Linked DNA regions of Homo sapiens. The protein of the gene in region 2 purifies or fractionates together with the protein of the main gene of each other region. This does not show direct contact. Each region holds a gene or a part of one and is shown on either strand. Other genes may lie near its edges.

Region 1 (3,957 bases), on a different chromosome or scaffold from region 2:
TTTTGTATACCTAGCCTTCTTCACTCATTTATTCTACCTGGCTGGCCCTTGTAGGTATTTGACTCTAACCCTTGACCTAAGCCCACAAAACAAAAAACAAACTAATCCTTTCTCTCCAAATTATATACAGTACAGGCGATCATAGTGCCAGAAAGTTTTAAAATAGTAAAACTCTAAGAACAGGTACAGAAAACTGGCAATGTTATGTGTGAATGAATTCTTTAGCCTAAGCTTCATAGCAGGTTTTGGCATTCTACTTTTTAATTCTAAAATACTGGCTTCAGCCAGGCACAGTGGCTCACGCCTGTAATCCTAGCACCTTGGGAGGCCAAGGTGGGCGGACCACTTGAGCCCAGAAGTTTGAGACTAGCCTGGGCAACATAGTGAAACCCCGTATCTCCAAAAAATACAAAAATTAGCTGGGTGTGTTGGTGTGCACCTGTGGTCCCACATACTCGGGAGGCTGAGGTGGGAGGATTGCTTGAGCCCAGTGGACAGAGGCTGCAGTGAGCCAAGATCACACTGTACTCTAACCAGAGGCTGCAGTGAGCCAAGATCACCACTGTACTCTAACCTGGGCGACAGAGAGAGACTGTCTCAAAAAAATAAATAAATAAAAGAAAATTACATTACCAGCCTCAAACTCTTCTGATACATATGGCAGGGTAAAGCCCAATAAGTACAAGCCATACTTCAGTACCTAAATAACACAGTTCCACCACAAACCTACCACTCACCTGACCATCACACAAGTGACAGAAACCACGAATAATTTTCTGTTTATACAGCTGATCTGCTTTCAACTCCATTCGGCGTACAGTCTGCATCATCCTGTAGTATTTGAGCCCATCCTCCCTGGTGAGCACTGTTGTGACAGGAGGGCCTTCTTCCAGCCGGTGAAGGTCACATTTCTGAAATGGAATAAGGTAGTTATTATCCTCCACATACTACATTGCAAACACTGTTGACCACTCTAAGATCTAACTCCATTGCAAATAATATTGAACTTGAAAAACTGCAAAGGAGCACATCAGTAATGCTTCATATCGCCTCTGTTCCTTAAATCCATAAACCTCACTGTGCAATGAGATGGGGCTTGGGGGAAGGAAATCTTTCTAAGATGATTTTCACTGAAAGCCCCTAGAAGCCAACTGAGTTATAGGTTGAAAGAACCTTCAAAGAAACAACTAAGACTCTTCTTATTCAAATATTTCACTGAATTACATTCCAAACTTTTGAATAAGCTTTTATTTTTATTTTCATTTTCTAGCTCCTCCCCCTTCCCCCCACAGAACAACAGCAAGCTGCTAATAATAAATTCTAGTTTTCGTGAAGCTTCTCTGAACTTCTGATCCTGGAACATTTAGAAGAAAATGATGACTAAGCATGAACATCAAAATGTTCTATTCTAAAGGTAAAACTGTATATCAGAGTGTACCTGTGAAAAAATTATTAACAAAGTAAAACACCTCTTACCTTAATTTCAAATGTAGCATCATTTGCAAAATTACGGGATGCTACCAGCACTCTGCTTGCCTTAAAAGACAAAAATATACAAACAAATCAGTACTTTTTAATTGTCAGCTATTTTGGAAAGTATAATAATCAGTTATCAGAATGAAGTTATGGAAATTTAATAAGCCCCAACATATTCATAGGCTTCTCTTCCACCCTGTGCACTGTGTTTGCATCTTCCTTGGCCTCCAAAATGAATCCATGCTTTGGCCAATGAAACAGGATTATCCCGCATCTGAAGGCAAGCAGCGCAAAGAGGGGCAAAAAACAAACCCATCCTTTGTTTTCAAAGAAATTATAGTGAGAATATAATGAAATTAGTGGCTAAAGAGACTAGATCATCTGTGAGCTGTGTCTGTTTATGCCATTCTTTTGTTTGTTTGTTTTGAGACGGAGTTTTGCTTTTATCACCCAGGCTGGAGTGCAGTGGTGCGATCTCGGCTCACTGCAACCTCCGCTTCCCGGGTTCAAGTGATTTCTCCTGTCTCAGTCTCCCGAGTAGCTGGGATTACAGGTGCCCACCACCACGCCCGGCTAATTTTTATATTTTTAGTAGAGATGGGGTTTCACCATGTTGGCCAGGCTGGTCTCCAACTCCTGACCTCAGGTGATCCACCTGCCTTGGCCTCCCAAAGTACTGGGATTGCAGGCATGAGCCACTGCGTCTGGCCTTTTCATGCCATTCTTAGTCATAACCAGATACTGTTCATTTTGAGCAAGCCAAAATTATACTTCAAATAAAACTATGATTTAATCTCCACTCTAGGCAAACTTGACTCTTCTATCAAATTGGATCTGTAAGAAAAAATATTTTAAATTGATTGAAGTATGAGATAAATACTTTAGGGAGACAAGACAAAAGAAAAGATACTTAGCACTCTCTGACTTAAACACAATGGGCTTGAGCCAGCTGTTTTATAATTTATAATTTGAACAGCCTAAATCTTGGACAGGCTCCTCCTGAAGCCCCAGTAGAAATGTTCTCTGAAACACTGTTCTCTTGATGTTTGGGTGGCTGTCACTGTTTGGAGGTAAAAAGCTTGGAGGCGGGGGGTGAGAAATGATTCCTTTCCAGTTTTACAACTGAGCAAACCTGCTCACAGCAAAAGTATTCTATGTAATGGCTAAGGTTTAGGTTAGACCACAAAATTTATCCAGTAGTATTATCATACTATTTTAGCTCCCTTCTGCCACATTCTCACACACTGACGTGTAAACCAACATGATTTCTCCATAAAAAGCACATCTGATGTGTTCATACCTTACCTAATCCAGCACTGGACTGATCTTGGTGAGAAGAGTTAAGACTGATCTGCCAAGTATACCCTGGAGTGTACAAGCCAATAGGCAGAAAGCTAATTACGTATATCTTCACCCCTCAATAGACCATTATTGGACAAAGCCAACAAACACAGACAATGACAGTGCTGGAGGAAAACAACTGAAATACTAGGAATCAGTGTTTCAGTTAACTTACAGGCAGAGACAGTCCACTAATGTATCTCAGAAAAAGTGAAGGAAATTTAGGAATTTGGGAAGAAGTAAAGCTGAGAGAAGGTGAAACAGCAAATCAATGGTTATATTTAGCAATCAAACAGATGTGTTATTCTTGGCAGTTAATAAATATTTTGTGGGGCCAGAAATTTATTGTATTGTGAAATAAATTTCCAAATACAACTACAGAAACTGCAGTTTTTGGAAGGCAGGAGTCCAAACCAGCCAGGCGACAGTAACAGAGAAAAGGTAACTTCTTTCTCAATCCTAGAGTTGAAACAATGAGGCAGGATAATGCTATACAATAAAGAGCAAGAAGGGGCCCAGTGCTGTGGCATGCGCCTGTAATCTTGCGCCTGCAAAGATTAGGACTGCCAGAAAGCTACTTAGATACTTTCTCCCATGGCTTCATTACTGTGTATCTCAAAAATAAGAACCACTGATATGAGTGAAAGGAACAAAGTTAAAGAAGCTAAAAGTCCTATCAGAAGTGTGTGTGTATCATTTCTGAGTGAGAGCTTGTTGAAAAGATAAGTTTACCATTCATTTTCTCTGGAGAGCCATAAAAAGATTCTCTGTTAAATGGGATTCCTCTCTGACAGAGACCACGAACAACCCACTCAAATTTTAAAAAATAAAAACTAGGCCGGGCATGATGGCTCACACCTATAATCCCCAGCACTTTGGGAGGCCAGGGTGGGAGGACCACTTGAAGCCAGGAGTTCAAAGCCAGCCTGGGCAACATGAGACTCTCATCTCTACAAAAATAAATATTAAAAAATTAGTCAGGTATGGTGGCACACACCTGAGGCTACAGTGAGCTATGACTGTGCCACTGCATTCCAGCCTAAAAAAAAAAATTAATTAAAAAAAAGTAAAACTTTAACTTCCTAAATACATAGGAACCATTCATGTGAAAGAGGAAAAACGTTTCAAAAATTCCAGATT
Region 2 (3,990 bases):
GTATTTATCCTCACTAGGAGCTCTAGAACAGAGGTGGTAGTACCCCTATTAGATTTCTCTCCTTTGTAAAAGACAGAAACCATAACCTCCCCTTACAACCAAGGCTGATCTAGACACCACAGTCCCTCAAGAGGAGGAAATCCATAGTACCACCTGCCTTATGCTAAGCTTCAGCCACCCACAAGAATTTCCTGACTTAGGAGTTAGTTGAAACCTTGTAAACCCTTTTCCCTATCTCTCTTGGGCGGCACAACAGGCCATCATAAAGCAATATGGTATAAAGGGAACAACACTGGACTATGGGTAACAAAAAGTAGGGATCTTGTCAAACATAAACTATATAAACGTTTCATCCATTTCCATGGAGCAACCAAAATGATCTTTTCAAAACATAATCATTTTATTTCACTTCTTTGCTTAAATTTCTCAATGGCTTCCTCAAGTACTTTAAATAAAATTCAAACTCTTTACCATAATCTATAAGGTCATTTATGTTCTCATCCCTGTTTTTTTCCAATCTCATCTCCTACTAGACCCTTTGCTCATTATGCTTCATTAACACTGGCCTTTTTTTTTTTTCTTTGAGACGGAGTCTTGCTCTGTCGCCCAGGCTGGAGTGCAGTGGCACTATCTCGGCTCACTGCAAGTTTGGCCTCCCAGGTTCACGCCATTCTCCTGCCTCAGCCTCCCGAGTAGCTGGGACCACAGGCGCCTGCCACCATGCCCAGCTAATTTTTTTGTATTTTTAGTAGAGACGAGGTTTCACCGTGTTAGCCAGGATGGTCTCCATCTCCTGACCTGTGATCCACCTGCCTCGGCCTCCCAAAGTGCTGGGATTACAGGCGTGAGCCATTGCGCCTGGCCAACACTGGCCTCTTTTATGTTCCTCAGACATGCTAAACTCTTTCCCATTTCAGACTGTGTACAGCTAGTCTCTCTATCCAAAATGATCTTTCCCCAGTTCTTCACATGGTTGGCTCAAGCTGCCTCCTTCTTATCTTTCAAAACAAATCAAATGTCACCTCATCAAAAAGATCTCCCAACCAACCTGTCTAAAAGTAGTCATGACTGCACATATATCCATTCACCCTTTCACTCACTAGTATATCACTGAGTTTCTTTCTTTCTTAGCACTCAAATCATCTTATTTAATAACAAAAATATTATTATCATTATAGCTAATACCTAGATATGCTTTCTCTGTACAGGCACTGGTTAACTTATTTAAACCTCACAACCATTAAACCTAATGTTTTTATATACAAAGAAATTGTGACACAAAAGGTCACACAGCTAGTATAAAGAGCTGAGGTTCATACCCAAGCATTCCAGCTACAGAGCTCACACTCTTAACTACTATGCTATACTCCCTTTCTGTTCATTTAATTCTTTATTGTTGGTCATATAAGCAACTGAAACTGAAATCTTATCCATCTGATGAACAAGTGTCTGATGTGTAGATAGCAGTCGATGATATTTATCACCTAACTCTGCCTGCATAGTAAGAACAGTGGGATTTTCTTTCTTTCTTTTTTTTTTTTAACACTCCTCTCAGCTCATACCTAAGGGATTTTCCACTTATATCTTTAGTAAGGTAACGAGTATTGCTGAATATCTAATAAATGGTCCTTCTTTGCTTGTCTAAATTCTTTAGATATAATTATTAACCCAGTCCTTTCTCCCTTTAAAAGTTACTCCAACTTACACTGCTGTCCCTGATTCTAATCATATATACATATATGATAGCAATATACTACTGAAATGGCATTAAGATGGAAAAAAAAGAATCTTCCAATATTACAAGAATCTCTGAGGTCCAAAAAATTTACAACATTCTACTCTTGTGTCTTGGGATTGGCTTGACTTCTAACTACAAGATAGCAAATTGCAGATACGGGATAACCACCATTGAGTACCCATAACTAGAAAATTGGGGAAATAAGCATATTTTTCTTTAGTAATTATGGATGGCAGAGCATCAAAACAGAAGGCAGGATAGGGTAGTGTGAAGAAACAGGCTTTAGAGTTAAACAAATCTAGAGTTACACTGCAACTTTACTATTTAACAGGAAGGAAGAACCCTGAAGAGTCTGAGAGTCTGTTTTCTTATCCAGAAAATAAGGAATGATAATTCTTACTTCAAGAAGTGTTGTGTACATTAAGTATGGTAAGTTAAATGACTGACACATAGTACAAGCCATCAAACCAAGTTCCAAGCATAATAACTTCCCCCCATTCCAAATAAGTACCTTAGTTATCCTACACTAAATTTTAGCTTAAGTTTAATTCAAAAAAACTTATTTAAGCACCAGGCAGTAATATCAATATGAATGACAACTAACATGTATTGAGTACTTATATGCTAGATACAGTTCTAAGCACTTCACCTGTTATAGCTCATTTAACTCTCACAATCTATACGATGTACAGTACCTCAGTTTTACAGATAGAAAAGTAATTGACATAAGGACATACAATCTAAGTAATTCACTGGAAAACATATTACATAGAAAATTATAAAGCCAGGATTAAATGCTAGGTGGTCTGATTCCAGGCCCCATGCTCTTATCACAAAGCTATATTTTTTCTTTGGCGGCAGACAGACAAGTAAGGCGTTTTCCCTTGCCTTCAGGGAGCTCTAGTTCTGTTTTATATGAATTTTATTAAGTCATTCCAAATCACCCCAACTTCAAATTTTATTTTGCTTTGCTTATTGCTACAGTCAACCAAGCACTAACAGAGGTTTCTTATTACATAATCAAGTCCCATAACCAAATTTTACATATACTTTCACCAAACAAGCAGTTTCCATGAATAGAAGAGGAAAAAAAAAGGTATCTAAAGTGTATGGGTAGATTCTAGGCAGAGTAAATAAAGCTCAGTAAAAGTTTCCCTACTCTGTGGTGGCAACAAAAGAACTATTTCTCCCTTCTGAAGGAATTATTAATGATTGTCCCTACTATCCCAATTATAAGTACGGCTATACATAGTTGTACTTGCAAGTCTTAAGGAGGAAATTCAACTAAATTTTAACTTTATAAAGTCCATTCTATAGAAACAGATTTACCTTTTACTTGTGTAAGATCAATCCCTTTCTCTACTGCCAACTTCTTTGCAAGAGGGCTAACAAACACCCTTCCCTTTGGTCCAGCAGGAGTAGCTGGGCAGGGTGCTGAAGGTGTAGGAGCTAAAGGCTGGGGAGTTGGAGGAACAGCGGCCACCTTTTGAAAAAAAATTACAAATTGTTTTAATTCACCACTTCAAAGACTGGTCTGAAAGATTAAAAGTTTACATCTTATTAATAAATTAAAACTATTTTAATTAAATATTAATAACTTTCATTTTTCCAAAGATCATAATGTACTTTTCGCCAGCTTAACCAACATAATGTAGTAATACGAACAGCGAGAACAATATACTTCTATATCAAAGACAGAACAGTTACCTTATTCCATAACAACATGAAGCACAGAATTGAATATTGCCAATCAGTGTATAGTATTCTACAGCCTTTCTTCACTTTAATCTCTTACCACTTCTTTATTCGCATTCTTTTACATCACCAACATGATTTTTATTTTTAATTATCCTAACTTCTTTTTTTTTTTTCTTTTTATTTGAGACAGAGTCTTGCTCTGTCACCCAGGCTGGAGTGCAGTGGCGCAAACTTGGCTCACTGCAACCTCCGCCTCCTGGGTTCAAGCAATTCTCCTGCCTCAGCCTCCCAAGTAGCTGGGATTAAAGGCACGCACCACCACGCCCAGCTAATTTTTTGTATTTTCAGTAGAGATGGGGTTTCACCATGTTGGCCAGGCTGGTCTTGAACTCCTGACCTCAAGCGATCCACCTGCCTCAGCCTCCCAAAGTGCTGGGATTACTGGCATGAGCCACCACACCCAGCCAGCTAATTTCAAAATATAAAATTATGCTGTAAGGCCCCATGTTGAAAAGTATCTTAAGAAATACGGCCAGGTGTGGTGGCTCACACCT

What was found. Proteins that work in one complex are often made in the same cells at the same time.
Region 1: the proteins of DLAT (region 2) and PDHA1 fractionate together in Homo sapiens (co-fractionation; 3 studies listed by BioGRID). This does not show direct contact.

Annotation. Positions count from the first base shown.
Region 1 is NC_000023.11:19,346,891-19,350,847, reverse strand, and holds part of PDHA1 (pyruvate dehydrogenase E1 component subunit alpha, somatic form, mitochondrial isoform 1 precursor), read right to left. Parts: intron 1,537-3,957; coding exon 1,477-1,536; intron 912-1,476; coding exon 738-911; intron 1-737. UniProt on the Homo sapiens protein: The pyruvate dehydrogenase complex catalyzes the overall conversion of pyruvate to acetyl-CoA and CO(2), and thereby links the glycolytic pathway to the tricarboxylic cycle.
Region 2 is NC_000011.10:112,038,475-112,042,464, reverse strand, and holds part of DLAT (dihydrolipoyllysine-residue acetyltransferase component of pyruvate dehydrogenase complex, mitochondrial isoform 2 precursor), read right to left. Parts: intron 3,222-3,990; coding exon 3,068-3,221; intron 1-3,067.